4 linked regions of the Homo sapiens genome follow. The protein of the gene in region 1 interacts with the protein of each later gene in a pairwise test. Each region holds a gene or a part of one and is shown in the gene's direction. Other genes may lie near its edges.

Region 1 (4,070 bases):
CCCTCTCTTGAATCGGGGTCTTATGACCTACAATCAAACGAGGTAGGCCAGGCAATTTCTTTACTGCCAGTTTTTACACAAAAAGGCAGAAGGAAAGTTGGATTCATATTTTTTAGGTTTTATGGCTAGCTTTGAGTCTAGCTTTGGTTTATATGTTCCATCTTGGGAAGGAAGCAGTCTAGTTCCTATAGCTAGCTTCGGGGAAGAATGGGAGGGAGAAAGAGGAAGGTAGGAGAAGGAGAAAAAGTTACTACGGAGGCCTTCATTTTGTAGCATTGTTTTCTGAGTCCCAACACCTTTTATTTTAAAAGCCTGTAGGAAGTCGCCTATTTAATAACTTGGCCCATTACACGTTGCCAATTCTCTTGTGATAAAGGCTGCTACCAGCATCAAAGAGAACAGAAAACTAACAATAGAGAAGTAAACATTAACACACCAGTGAGTTTCTAGGTTTAGATGTGCGAGTTGGCTAGATATTTAAATGATAATTATAAATTTTAATAAACAGGGAAGAAAGAAAAATAAGCCAAAAATGTAATACGGGCGTCCACAGCGAGGACCAGAATTCATGGGATCAAAAATTTTTTTTTCTTTTCTTTGAGACGGAGTTCCGCTCTTGTTGCACAGGCTGGAGTGCAATGGTGTGATCCGGGCTCACCGCAACCTCTGCCTCCTGGGTTCAAATGATTCTCCTACCTCAGCCTCCTAAGTAGTTGGGATTACAGGTATGCGCCACCAGGCCCGGCTAATTTTGTATTCTTAGTAGAGATGCGGTTTTTCCGTGTTGGAGACTGGTATTGAACTCCCGACCTCAGGTGATCCGCCCGCCTCAGCCTCCCAAAGTGCTGGGATTACAGGCGTGAGCCACAACGCCCGGCGGGATCACTAATTATCCGTGTTTTTCTCTTCGGGAGGAAAATCCTTTTGGTCAGATTTCCCTTGGCTTGGTGGTGGAGAGGGTGAGATCTTGCAGTTTTCAAACACTTCCTAAGGGGGTTCCGTCCCCAAGAGAGCAAGCAGCAGAAATGCCAGAGGAACCGTGCCTATGGGGACAAAGCTGAACTCCTCATGGAAGGAGATTACTGCAGTTCCGGTCTTGTGAGCCAAAGCTCCTGTTCAATCGTCCTAGAGCATCCCAAGCAGCAAATGATTTTAAACATGTTAATGTATTTAATCTCATTTAGTTGTTAAAATATGCCTAAATTTCCTCTTTGGGAACGCAAGACTTGCAGAGATGACTCCATGGAGAGCGGACTCTGCCGGCGGGAACTGGAGTCGTTGGTGACGTCATCCCAGTCTGATCTGTGAAGGGTAGGGCCAGCAGGCAGCACCAAAGTTCCCGTATGCGCGTTTTCAGTCTTCATTTAGGTCCGAATTCCCGGCATATAAGAATACTACCGTCGCTTGTTTTTCAGATTTTTGCGGCTATTTTCGTTGGTGTGTTGGTCATGTCTGGTCGCGGCAAAGGCGGAAAGGGACTGGGTAAAGGAGGCGCTAAGCGTCACCGTAAGGTCCTGCGAGATAACATCCAGGGCATTACCAAGCCTGCCATCCGGCGCCTTGCTCGTCGCGGGGGTGTCAAGCGCATTTCTGGTCTCATCTACGAGGAGACTCGCGGGGTTCTGAAGGTGTTTCTGGAAAACGTGATTCGTGATGCTGTGACTTACACGGAGCACGCCAAACGCAAGACAGTGACAGCGATGGATGTGGTCTACGCGCTGAAGAGACAGGGACGCACTCTTTACGGCTTCGGCGGCTAATGCTACCGCTTAAACGACTCAGCATCTCGACTTCCCAAATCAAAGGCCCTTTTCAGGGCCGCCCACAGTTTTCCGCAAAAGAGCTCATGACTTGTTAGACGATTGGTTGGTCTCTTTATAAGTTAATTGTTCCTGTCAACAGGTACGTATATTTTTCAGCCGTTTTTTTTTTTTCGTTCCAAATTACATTTGGGGTTTCGGCATACGATTTTTTAGGCTACGATCCTTTTATGTTTATTGTAGTAGGGCCTTAGATTGCACTGAAAAGGCTAGGGTAATAGTGTCTGTTTACCTTACCACTTTTATTTTGAGTACCTAAAAATGCATGGTTTTCGACATAAGTGGGAAAACCGCAAGACACTGCGTAACCGCTCAAAATGGCGGAGAGCGAAGAACAAAGCCGGTGCCTGGCAATGGGCCGGACCCGCGAATTAGCGCAACCAATCATCTTCCTGGAAAGGAGTGTGGGCCTTAAATTCTAGCGGCCTGTTTTCTATTACTTAACCTAACGACCGAGTTTAGGTGTGTAGAAGTTCCTGGGGTAGATAAGCTCACGCAAGGAGAGGTTGCAAGCATTCATTTCGGAATTCTATTAAGCCAACCCAGTTGTCCCTTAGAAGTTATGATATTTGCTGTTTTTTGAATAAAAGAATTTGACTCTCTTTAAACCCTAAAGCTTGAAATTTAGCATTTATCTCACATGAGACAAATGTTTAGGAACTCATGTTTAGGAACTCATGTTCCTGCCTGAGGCAGGAACTGAAACACCAGATCACTTGCATCGAGACCGTGAGACTCCCTATGTTTCATCCATCATGATTGCGTCCTTATCCCTCCCTGATTTCCTGTTTTCTCGCCCTTCTCGCTACATAAGCCCCCCAATTTTGGTCGGGGAGACGGATTTGTGATTTCATCTCCTCCCTCATGAATACTCATAGAATTTTTCCAAACCTACTGAATCTGTATGTAAGGTTGACTCTGTAAGGCATATATATATTCCAGCTCCCCTTCACTGCCACAGAGCGCTCATTCCATCCTGGGATTACTTCTCCCTCTGAAAATAAAGTCTTTGTTACTTCCTGCTTGGATCTCATTGTCTATTGTTCAAAAAAGATATGTCGTCATTCCACAGTTATGCCCCAGATGTCTTGGAGATGTGGTTTGTTTAAAGAAGGATCCAGCCATAACTTCCGTTGTGTCTCCAGTTTTCTTATCTAAAACAGGCTCCTCTCCCCTACTTCCCCATTTTTGAACATTGATTTCTCGGAGACCAGACTTACAGAATGTTTTTGTTTTGCTTTTGTTTTGTATTGGCTTGATTCTTAATCGTTTTACTTGGCTTCTGTACTCCCCATGTCCTGTAAAGTACAAGTGACTTTCATACACTTAATTGAAATCGGGTGAATATGCCTGTCAGGAACAGTTTACAGATGTAATGTACATAGTACACTACATCAGAAACACATGATGTCCGGTTTATGTAAATTCCAAGTGATAGAAAAATCGCAAGTTTGGGCTGGGCACAGTGGCTCATGCCTCTATTCCGAGCACGTTGGGAGGGCAAGGTGGGTCGATCACCTGAGGTCAGGAGTTCAAGACTAGTCTGGCCAACATGGTGAACACCTGACTCTATTAAAAATAAAAAAATTAACTGGGCATGGTGGCAGGCACCTGTAATCCCAATTAATCAGGAGGCTGAAGCAGGAGAATCGCTTGAACCCAGGAGGAAGAGGTTGTAGTGAGCCAAGGTGGTACCACTGCACTCCAGCCTGGGCAACAGAGAAAGACTGCCAAAAAAATTAAAAAAAAAAAAAACCGTTGGTTTAGGGTGATAGTTCCATTGAAAATCAGATTTTTCTTCTAGCCAGCAAGTTGTCCGTAGGCTGATACTTTGAAATCAGGAAAATAAATAGTTACTTTGAATGTCATTTTTAAAAAGTGTGAGCTCGTGCATATATATGAAAAGCATCATGTTATTGGTGCTAAGGCACTAGTTCGAGGAGAAAAAGTTTTATGAGGATGTTAATGTAACAACAGCAACAAAAAGGAGCACATAGCATGTACCAAGCATTGTTCTATGCTCTGGGAATTACAGCAGTGAATGAGAAAGAACAAAACGATATGTGTGCATAGAATTTATATTTATTGGGTGGGGGTACACACACAAAATAAGTGAAACAGTGTGTCAGATGGTGCTGACTGCTATGAAGATCACTGAAGCAGGAAAAGGCATAGCATGTGGAGGGAAGAAGTGATATTTTAAATGATATGGTCTTGAAAAATTTTACTCATAAAGTGATAAAGAAAAAA
Region 2 (3,500 bases), on another chromosome or scaffold:
CACCTTCAAGCAGGGTGTGGAGGGACTCTGTGGTCTGGGTGGGGCTTACCCCACGTGGAGAGGCGGCGGCTTCTGCCAATTCAGCAGAATTCCCTTGGCCACAGGACAGGTTCAAGAAAAGCCAAGTGACCCTCTGCAGGTAAAAATCTTCTTGCTCAGTCCTTAGGAGTTTCTAGCTCTCTCCTTACTGGACTTGAAGAGAACACACAGTTTGTACCTGCTCCCAGCCACCTTGTAACACAGGTGGAGCCTGTCTGAGAATGGAGACAATCTTTGGGGCAGCAGAGGTTGCAGTGGAGAAAAACAAGGTGCTGGCACCAGCAGTTGAGCTCCTGCACAAAGTTGTGCTTCACTTTCCCCCTTAAAACTAGCATGGCTGCCAGGCCTGGTGGCTCACGCCTGTAATCCCAGCACTATGGGAGGCCAAGGTGGGGGGATCATGTGGTCAAGAGACTGAGACCATCCTGGCCAACATGGCGAAACCCCGTCTCTATTAAAAACTACAAAACTTAGCTGGGTGCGGTGGCAGGTGCGTGTAATCCCAGCTACGTGGGAGGCTGAGGCAGGAGAATCGCTTGAACCTGGGCAGCAGAGGTTGCAGTGAGCCGAGATTGCACCACTGCACTCCAGCCTGGGCGACAGAGTGAAACTGTCTCCAAAAAAAAAAAAAAAAAATCCTTAATAGCATGAAATATCCAATCTGTTTAGTTTTTCTCATCAAATGTTTTTTATGAGCAATCCAAATGAGGACCACCCACTGCATTTGGTTAATATGTCTGCCAAGACGCTCTTAAAATCTAACAGTTCTTACCCATCTTTTTCTGTACAGTTTATTTGTTGGGGACATAGGTCATATGCCTTGTAGAGTTTCACATATTTGGGGTTTGTTGACTGCATCCTGTTGTCTCACTTACCATGTTCCTCTGTCCCCTGTATTTCCTATAAACTAATATTAATAGTTAAGATTTGACACAGTTGGGTGTTTTTTTTTTTGACACTTACTTTTGTAAGAATACTTCATAGGTTGGTGCAGCGTTCTTCCTGTTGGCATCACCTCTGGCATCTGATGCGTGATTATTGCCTGTGCATGTTAATGATCGGTCGGTGGGTTTGGGTGTTGATGGTCTGACACATCCACTTTCAAGTTTCTTAATATCGTTTGTTTGTTTGTTTGTTTGTTTGTTTGAGAGACAGAGTTGCTCTGTTGCCCAGGTTGGAGTGCAGTGGCACGATTATAGCTTACTGCAGCCTCAAATTCCTGGGCTCAGGTCATCCTCCCACTTCAGCCACCTGAGTACTTGGGACTACAGGCACATGCCACCATGCTCTGCCAATTTTTTGGTTTTGTTGTTGGTGTGTGTGTGTGTGTGTTTAAGACAGGGTCTTGCTCTGTCGCCCAAGCTCCATGGAGTACAATGTTGTAGAGATTGGGTTTTGCTGTGTTGCCCAGGCTGGTCTCAAACTCCTGAGCTCAAGTGAGCCGCCACGCCTGGGTGATATCTTTTCATCTAATGTTTTAGCAGCTATTTATGATCCTTGCCCAAAGCCTTCAATTCACTGGGGATATATGTGGTCTTTGAACATGATTAAATATAAGTGCAGGTCACTGTGGCCAAGAAAAAAAAAGTTACTGCAATCATGACCGCAGTTGGCTCAGCTCTAGTGGGGTTTATTACTCATACCATACTTACATTATCCACGTGAGGATCCCCAGGCATGACTTGTTCATAACAAGAGGGCAAGAGAACCAGTTGGTACATCTTCTCTCCAACTGTGAAAGGGAATATACTTTAATAAACTAGTTTTATGTTAGTTCCTGATATCCTGGTTTTACATGGAAAACTATCATAAAAGAATCAAAATGCAGGCCGGGTGTGGTGGCTCATGCCAGTATTCCCAGCACTTTGGGAGGCCGAGGCCAGCAGATCACCTGAGGTCAGGAGTTCCGGACCAGCCTGGCCAACATGGTGAAACCTTGTCTCCACTAAAAATACAAAAAATTAGCCAGGCGTGGTGGCACGCGCCTATAATCCCAGCTACTCTTGAGGCTGAGGCAGGAGAATCGCTTGAACCCAGGAGGCAGAGGTTGCAGTGAGCCTAGATTGTGCCACTGCACTCCAGCCTGGGCAACAGAGCAAGACTCTATCTCAAAAAAAAAAAAAAGAATCAAAATGTACCATTATAAAATTGTTGATGGGAGAAAGACCCTTAGCAAAGTGGAAATCAATACCTGTAAATTAAGGTTAACGCACTCTGAATACACTAAACAAACTTTGGTCCATTAAAAGGTCTTTTTGTCACTTTTTTTTTTTTTTTTAAGAGACGGACTCTCGCTCTGTCGCCCAGGCTGGAGTGCAGTGGCGCAATCTCAGCTCACTGCAAAGTGCAAACTCCACCTCCTGGGTTCACACCATTCTACTGCCTCAGCCTCTGGAGTAGCTGGGACTATAGGCGCCCGCCACCATACCCGGCTAATTTTTTTTGTATTTTTAGTAGAGACGGGGTTTCACTGTGTTAGTGAGGATGGTCTTGATCGTCTGACCCCGTGATCCGCCCACCTCAGCCTCCCAAAGTGCTGAGATTACAGGCATGAGCCACCGCGTCTGGCCCTTTTTGTCACTTTTTAAGCATCTTTTGGAGTATTAAGATCACATTGATTCTAAATATTTGTTTGCATTCATCTAGTTTATAGCACTTTGTTGCTCCAAAAGATTTCTCCTAGGATCTCCTAGTAAAATCCTAATAAAGACCATTTGTAACACACATCAAGACTTGAGGATTCTGTTTGTGTTCTAATTTCATGTATCCATAGGCTCGGAAACTCCAAGACTGTACACCTACCTTATCATTTTGTGATTCTTTATGTCAGTCAGCAAATACTTTATGACACCTGGGGTCTACTCAGGAGATTTAAGGCTGAACGAGACTGGTCACTCAATCATAGATCATGAAGGCAGAGGTAGAGCCCTGAGTAGCTAGAGTCAGAACAAAGCCAACCCTGGTGATGCTGCAGTAAATGATCACCGTTACAGGGAGGGTGATTGACAAAGCCAACCTGGTGATGCCACAGTAAATGATCACCGTTGCAGGGAGGGTGATTGACAAAGCCAACCTGGTGATGCCACAGTAAATGATCACCGTTGCAGGGAGGGTGATTGACAAAGCCAACCTGGTGATGCCACAGTAAATGATCACCGTTACAGGGAGGGTGACTGGGAGGCAGCCACTTTTGACCTTATACTAGGATCCTTAAAAGGTAATTTTTGCAAAAATATTCCAAAGCAGCGTCAGTGTCCCCAGGCCCTTTCCTAGGCCTTTGACTTTCAGATGTACTGTTTGGAGCTCCTGTGTCCTCAGCCTGGCTGGTTTTCTGTTCCTCGGAAGTGGGGCTGCCCGTTGCTGGGGCTTCATATGACTTGAGCAGGTCCCCCGCATCTCTTGTAAGATTTGCAGTTTTACTTCACAAGACCAGCGAAAATGTCAGTGTGCAGGATGGCTGC
Region 3 (3,500 bases), on another chromosome or scaffold:
TTTTTAATGTTTAGTTCTCATTTTTCCTGAGATTCACAGAGAATAAATTTTGTGTTTCCTTGTTCAGCTCTGACTACTCCATCTTTTTTTTTTTTTGAGGTGGAGTCTCGCTCGTTCCCCAGGCTGGAGTGCAATGGTGCAGTCTCGGCTCACTGCAACCTCCACCTCCCGGGTTCAAGCAATTCTCCTGTCTCAGCCTCCCGAGTAGCTGGGATTACATACAGGCGCCTGCCACCACGCCTGGCTAATTTTTGTATTTTTAGTAGAGACGGGGTTTCACCGTCTCTACTGTCACCCAAGTTGGAGTGTAGTGGTGCAATCATGGCTTACTGCAGCCTCGACTGCCCAGGCTCAAAATGATCCTCCTTGCTCAGCCTCCCAAGTAACTGGAGGTATAGATAGGCATGTGCTACCGCGCTCAGCTAATATTTTTTATTATTTGCTGCCCAGTTTGGTCTTGAACTCCTGGGCTCAAGCGATCCTCCTGCCTCAGCCTCCCAAAGTGCTGGGATTATAGGCATGAGCCACTGCATCCGGCTGACACCTTAACTCCTTTTATTTATTTTTTTTTTTGAGACAGAATCTCGCTCTGTCGCCAGGCTAGAGTGCAGTGGCGTGATCTCGGCTCACTGCAGCCTCCGCCTCCTGGGTTCAAGCAATTCTCCTGCCTCAGTCTCCTGAGCAGCTGGGATTACAGGCGCCCACCACCACACCTAGCTAATTTTTGTATTTTTAGCAGAGGCAGGGTTTCACCATGTTGGCCAGGATGGTCTCGATCTCTTGACCTCGTGATCCACCCGCCTTGGCCTCCCAAAGGGCTGGGATTACAGGTGTGAGCCACCGTGCCCGGCCAACCTTAACTCTTAAAACATCTACCTTGCTGGCCAACCTGCTGACCGATGAGAGAATTTACATAAAGGCATGTTGAAGAAATGTGGGGCTCTGCAGGTGAAAGGCTGTATCCTTCCTGCCATCCTTATTGTCTGATTTTTGCTACACATGAGGAGCAAACTCACCTGCCTTCTGTTTCTCACATGGAATTCAGCCAGGGGCTTCAGTCTCCTCAGCCTTTTTTCCCTTTTTGTTAAGGCTTTTTCTTTTCTTTTTTTTTTTTTTTTTTGAGATGGAGTGTCGCTCTGTCACCCAGGCTGGAGTGCAGTGGCACAATCTTGGCTCATTGCAGCCTCCGCCTCCCAGGTTCAAGTGATTTTCCTTCCTCGGCCTCCCGAGTAGCTGGGAGCCCGCCACCACGCCCGGCCAATTTTTTTGTATTTTTAGTAGAGATGGGGTTTCACCATATTGGCCAGGCTGGTCTCGCTTTTTCTTCTTTTAGCACACTTGTTTTCCTTTTAAATTAACCAGCCCTATGTCTATTCCTTTCGTCCTAATACATAGCAGATTACCTTTAAAGTAAAAACATAACTTTTTTTTTTTTTTTTTGAGACAGAGTCTCGCTGTGTTGCCCAGGCTGGAGTGCAGTGGCACAATCTCACTCACTGCAATCTCTGCCTCCCAGGTTTAAGCGATTCTCCTACCTCAGCCTCCCATGTAGCTGGGATTACAGGTGCCCACCACCACGCCTGGCTAATTTTTTTGTATTTTTAGTAGAGACGGGGTTTCACCATGTTGGTCAGGCTGGTCTCGAACTGTTGGCCTCAAGTGATCAGCCTGCCTTGGCCTCCCAAATGCTGGGATTACAGGCATGAGCCACCGTGCCCAACCTAAAAACCTAAATTCATGAAACAGATTAGTTGACAATAGGGGAGTTAATTGTATTTCAGAGAGAATGTTAGGTCTCTAAAATTTATTATTCCCTAGGTTGACATTAAAGTGTAAGGCAGTTACTTAGTCAGATTTTTTTTTTTTTTTTTTTGAGATGGAGTCTTACTCTGTGGCGCGGGCTAGAGTGCAGTGGTGCTATTTAGGCTCACTGCAATCTCCGCCTCCTGGGTTCAAGCAATTCTCCTGCCTCAGCTTCCCAAGTAGCTGGGACTATAGGCGCCCGCCACACCACCCGGCTAATTTTTTGTATTTGTTGTAGATACAGGGTTTCACCATGTTAGACAGGATGGTCTTGATCTCCTGACCTTGTGATCCGCCTGCCTGGGCCTCCCAAGTGCTGGGATTACAGGCGTGAGCCATTGCTGCTGGCCAGCTCTGCTAATTTTTAAAGTTTTTGTAGAAATAGGATTTTGCCATGTTGCTGGTCTCAAACTCTTGGGCTCAAGTGATCCTCCTGCCTCAGCCTCCCAAAGTGTTGGGATTACAGGCATGAGCCACTGTACTTGGCTAGTTTGAATCTAAAAGAAGTTTTTTTTTTTTTAATTAAATTTTCAGTATTAAGCTAAAGAGTATAGATATTTTTAGACTGGGTGCATTGGCTAACTTCTATAATCCCATCACTTTGGGAGGCCGAGGTTGGAGGATCACTGGAGGCCAGGAATTTGAGACCAACCTGGGCAACATTGCAGGACTTCATTTCTACAAAAAATAAAAACACCAGATGTGGTGGTGTACACTTGCAGTCCTGGCTACTCGGGAGGTTAGGGCAGGAGGATTGCTTGAGCCCAGGAGTTCGAGGCTACAGTAAGCTATGATCACACCACTGTGCTCCAGGCTGGGCAGCAGAGCAAGGATCTTGTATAGTTTTTTTTAAGGTATAGTTTTCTTTTCTTTTTTTGAGACAGAGTTTTACTCTATGGCCGAGGCTGGAGTGCAGTGGCGTTAGTTAGCTCAGCTCACTGCAGACTCCTCCTCCTGGGTTTAAGTAATTCTCCTGCCTCAGCCCCCACCCTAAATAGCTGGGATTACAGGCGTGTGCCACCACGCCCCTCTAATTTTTGTATTTTTAGTAGAGACCAGGTTTCACCATGTTGGCCAGGCTGGTCTTGAACTCCTGACCTCAGGTGATCCGCCCCCGCCAGGCCTCCCAAAGTGCTGGGATAACAGGTGTGAGCCACACCCCTGGCCAAAGTGTAGATATTTTTATGGCTTTATGTAGATAGGTAGATATAAATATGCGTATATGTGAGTACGTATTTTCCTAATTGGAATATTGGATGTGCAAAAATCTATATTTTTAGAGCTATTTTATATTTTTACTAAAATATTTGTTGTTTTTAGGAGTGATTACTTGGTGAGTGTCAGCCACTGCGTAGGGCGCTTGGGCATATAGCAGGGGTACTTACAAATGAGCCCTCTTGGAGCAGCTTCCTTTTGGCTGGTTCAGGGAGGTGAATGCTGTTGGAAAGCCTTAGCTCTTCACATGCTGCTGGGTTTTGGTTGTCTGTGGATATGTAGGGACCTTGGGTCTTGGTCTGTAAGCCCATTTTCTCCCTGGGTGGCCACCTGAATCTAGCAAGGTGTAGTTTAAGTAGAGTCTCTTCAGAGAGTTGAGGATGTTGTGCTTGTTAAGGAAGACCGGTTTACATCTGTGTGTACATTACCTTCCTCAGGCTTCCTCAGGCCCAGTGCTCATGGAAGGGACGTTGAGGGACTGA
Region 4 (3,500 bases), on another chromosome or scaffold:
GAGGGAGCGGGTGAGTGAATATTTACTAAGTGCCTGCTGGGGGCTGGCCTGCTGTAGGCGTTGTCAGCTGTTTCGCTGGGTCCCCACAGTGTCTGTGTCAGGACGGCCAGTGCTCTTTCTGAAGGGAAGCTGAGAAGTCTGGTGACCTCTGAGGACTCCCCACTACAAAATGACCTGCTTGGGTCTTTCCGCCCCTCCAAATGTGTGGCAGCAGAGGTGGGAAATTTCTCACTGCTGGGCCAGGCCTGTGGATGCAGGGCCCTTCGATTCCTTAAAGGGAAAGTCAGTGCTTGATTGGCCACAGCCATTCCAGCTAACGTTGCTTTTCCCTGTTGCAGAGAAAGTCAAGCAAAGCCAAGGAGAAGAAGCAGAAGCGGTTGGAGGAGCGAGCAGCCATGGATGCCGTTTGTGCCAAAGTGGACGCTGCCAACAGGGTGATTCTCCCTTTCTTCCCAGTCCCTGCCTCCTGGGACTTCAGCTTGGTTTATAATTTGACTTATTTTGTCTCCACCCTGTGGCAGAATTGTGACACTACCCACCCACACCGCCTCTGCCTCCTTGCTGTGCAGGGAACTGAGCTCATACCTGTGTGTTGGAAGTTGGCGCCAGCAGTTGGCCCAGGTGTTTGGGAAAACGTGGATTCCAGTGAAGTGGCTGCCTCCCTGTGGATCTTCTTCCTTATGAATAGAGGAGGATCTAGATAATTTTTTTTTCTTTTGTGTGAGACAGGGTCTCACTCTGTCATCCAGGCTGGAATGCAGTGGCACTATCTCGGCTCACTTCAACCTTGCAGCCTCTGCCGCCTGGGCCCAAGTGATCCTCCCACCTCAGCCTCTCAATTAGCTGGGACTATAGGTGCCCACCACCACACCCGGGTAATTTTTGTAGAGACGGGGTTTGGCCTTGTTGCCCAGGATGGTCTTGAACTCCTGAGCCCAAGCATTTCACCTGCCTTGGCCTCCCAAAGTGCTGGGATTACAGGCGTGAGCCACAGTGCCCAGCCCCTGCCTCCATTTAGTATCCCATTTTTTGGTCATTCTTTTAACCCACTCATAGTAAACACTCATTTATAAGGATGTGGCTCAGGGGCTTGATTTTCCATTTGGAGTTGTAACCAGGTAAAGTCAGTGTGCAGCAGATCAGGTAGCCTCTTCTTTGGGTTAGCTGTGCTGTGAGCAGGTTGTATGCCCACAGGCTAATGAGGTCTCCTCTTGCCCTGTCAGGTGATGCCAAACTTAACTCTCCTGGGCCTTTCCACCAAAGCCTTCCTCGCACATGTGACTTCAGAGCTAGGCAAATGGTGGGTTTTGGGAGGCTGCTCCTGGTTCTGAAGTTAGTCTCCCGTTGTGGGTCCCCACAGCATCCCACTCCAAGACAACAGCTCTTGGGATAGGATCTGCACCTCCGCCCCACTTGTCTGTGCTGTTCCTCTTTTCTTTCCCTCCACAGCTTGGAGACCCTCTGGAGGCTTTCCCAGTGTTCAAGAAATATGATAGAAACGGGTGAGTCACATTGAGCATTACCAACTGCTGTCTCCTCGAGTGTCTTCAGGAATTCCCTTTCCAGAGTAGGCTTCCTCAGACACAAATTTTCTCATTGTTCTTCGTATTTACGAAAAAACAGGGCTGGGTGCGGTGGCTCACGCCTGTAATCCAAGCACTTTGGGAGACCGAGGTGGGTGGATCACATGAGGTCAGGAGTTCGAGACCAGCCTGGCTAACATAGTGAAACCCCATTTCTACTAAAAATACAAAAAATTAGCTGGCACGGTGGCGATCGCCTGTAATCCCAGCTACTCGGGAGGCTGAGGCAGGAGAATCACTTGAACCCGGGGGGCAGAGGTTGCAGTGAGCCGAGATAGCACCATTGCACTCCAGCTTGGGTAACAAGAGTGAAACTCCATCTCAAAACAAAACAAAACAAAACAAAACAAAAGCAGAAACTGACTCGTGCCCTATATTGATATAAAATCCCCCAGGTAGGGTGGCAGAAGAATCCATAAATGAGCAAAGATTGCACTTAATCTCAGACTGATGTCTCTTTAGATAAATTTTTCTTTTATTTTTTGAGATGGAGTCTTGCTTAGTCACCCAGGCTGGAGTGCAGTGACGCAATCTCGGCTCACTGCAACCTCCGCCTTCTGGGTTCAGCCGATTCTCCTGCCTCAGCCTCCCAAGTACCTGGGATTATAGGTGCGTGCCACCACACCTCACTAATTTTTGTGGGTTTTTTTTTTTTTTTTTGAGACGGAGTCTCACTCTGTCGTTCAGGCTGGAGTGCAGTGGTGCGATCTCGGCTCACTGCAACCTCTGCCAGGTTCAAGTAATTCTCTGTCTCAGCCTCTCAAATAGCTAGGATTAAAGGCACCCGCCACCACGTCCAGCTAATTTTTGTATTTTTAGTAGAGTCAGGGTTTCACCATCTTGGCCAGGCTGGTCTTGAACTCCTGACCTCATGATCCACCTGTCTCAGCCTCCCAAAGTGTTGGGATTACAGGTGTGAGCCACTGCGCCCAGCTAATTTTTGTATTTTTAGTAGAGATGGGGTTTCACCATGTTGGCCAGGCTGGTCTCGAACTCCTGACCTCAACTGACCCACCTGCCTCAGCCACCCAAAGTGCTGGGATTACAGGTGTGAGCCACCGCGCCTGGCCTGATGTCTCTTCAGGACTGATTATTCTCTCTGCAAAGAATCATTGAGCTGAAACAAACTTGGAAAATTATCTAGGCTGACACTCACATTTAATGCATGGGAAACTGAGGCCCAGAGAGTCAAATGAGCTTTCTGAGTTTATGGAGTTTCCCCTGACAGCTGAGGGGCTTTTAATTTCCAATCTAGTGCTCTTTCCCTGAGTATACAGTATAATTGTTAAAAGCCAATTCCTGGCTATTTGGCCCTGAACAAATTACTTTTCTTCTTTAAAAAGAAAAATATTTGCTGGGCGTGGTGGCTCACGCCTGTAATCTCAGCACTTTGGGAGGCCGAGGTGGGCGGATCACGAGGTCAGGAGATCGAGACCATCCTGGCTAACACGGTAAAACCCCGTCTCTACTAAAAATATAAAAAATTAGCCAGGCATGGTGGCGGGCACCTGTAGTCTCAGCTACTCGGGAGGCTGAGGCAGGAGAATGGCGTGAACCCGGGAGGCGGAGCTTGCAGTGAGCCAAGATTGCGCCATTGCACTCCAGCCTGGGCAACAGAGCAAGACTCCATCTCAAAAAAATGTATATATTTTTTGGTAGAGAAGGGGTCTTGCCTATGTTGCCCGGGCTGGTCTCAAACTGCTGTCCTCAAGTGATCCTCCCACCTCGGCCTCCTAAAGTGCTGTGCCCAGCTGACCCTGAACAAATTACTTAACCTTTCTGTTCCTCAATTTTCTATTTAAAAATGGGCCTGGGCCAGGTGTGGTGGCTCATACCTGTAATCCCAGCACTTTGGGAGGCTGAGGTTGGAAGGATCGTTTGTGCCCAGGAGTCCAAGACCAGTCCTGGCGACATAGG

Evidence for each region. The genes of interacting proteins can lie anywhere in the genome.
Region 2: the proteins of H4C5 (region 1) and RRP1B interact in binary tests that used the Homo sapiens proteins (3 or more experiments, as listed by UniProt).
Region 3: the proteins of H4C5 (region 1) and KDM4A interact in binary tests that used the Homo sapiens proteins (3 or more experiments, as listed by UniProt).
Region 4: the proteins of H4C5 (region 1) and NAA40 interact in binary tests that used the Homo sapiens proteins (3 or more experiments, as listed by UniProt).

What each region holds. Positions count from the first base shown.
Region 1 is NC_000006.12:26,203,197-26,207,266, forward strand, and holds H4C5 (histone H4), read left to right. Parts: upstream 1-1,413; 5' UTR 1,414-1,448; coding exon 1,449-1,760; 3' UTR 1,761-1,825; downstream 1,826-4,070. UniProt on the Homo sapiens protein: Core component of nucleosome. Nucleosomes wrap and compact DNA into chromatin, limiting DNA accessibility to the cellular machineries which require DNA as a template.
Region 2 is NC_000021.9:43,666,060-43,669,559, forward strand, and holds part of RRP1B (ribosomal RNA processing protein 1 homolog B), read left to right. Parts: intron 1-3,500. UniProt on the Homo sapiens protein: Positively regulates DNA damage-induced apoptosis by acting as a transcriptional coactivator of proapoptotic target genes of the transcriptional activator E2F1.
Region 3 is NC_000001.11:43,656,649-43,660,148, forward strand, and holds part of KDM4A (lysine-specific demethylase 4A), read left to right. Parts: intron 1-3,500. UniProt on the Homo sapiens protein: Histone demethylase that specifically demethylates 'Lys-9' and 'Lys-36' residues of histone H3, thereby playing a central role in histone code. Does not demethylate histone H3 'Lys-4', H3 'Lys-27' nor H4 'Lys-20'.
Region 4 is NC_000011.10:63,945,502-63,949,001, forward strand, and holds part of NAA40 (N-alpha-acetyltransferase 40), read left to right. Parts: intron 1-338; coding exon 339-434; intron 435-934; exon of another isoform or gene 935-1,198; coding exon of another isoform or gene 1,199-1,300; intron 1,301-1,449; coding exon 1,450-1,502; intron 1,503-3,500. UniProt on the Homo sapiens protein: N-alpha-acetyltransferase that specifically mediates the acetylation of the N-terminal residues of histones H4 and H2A.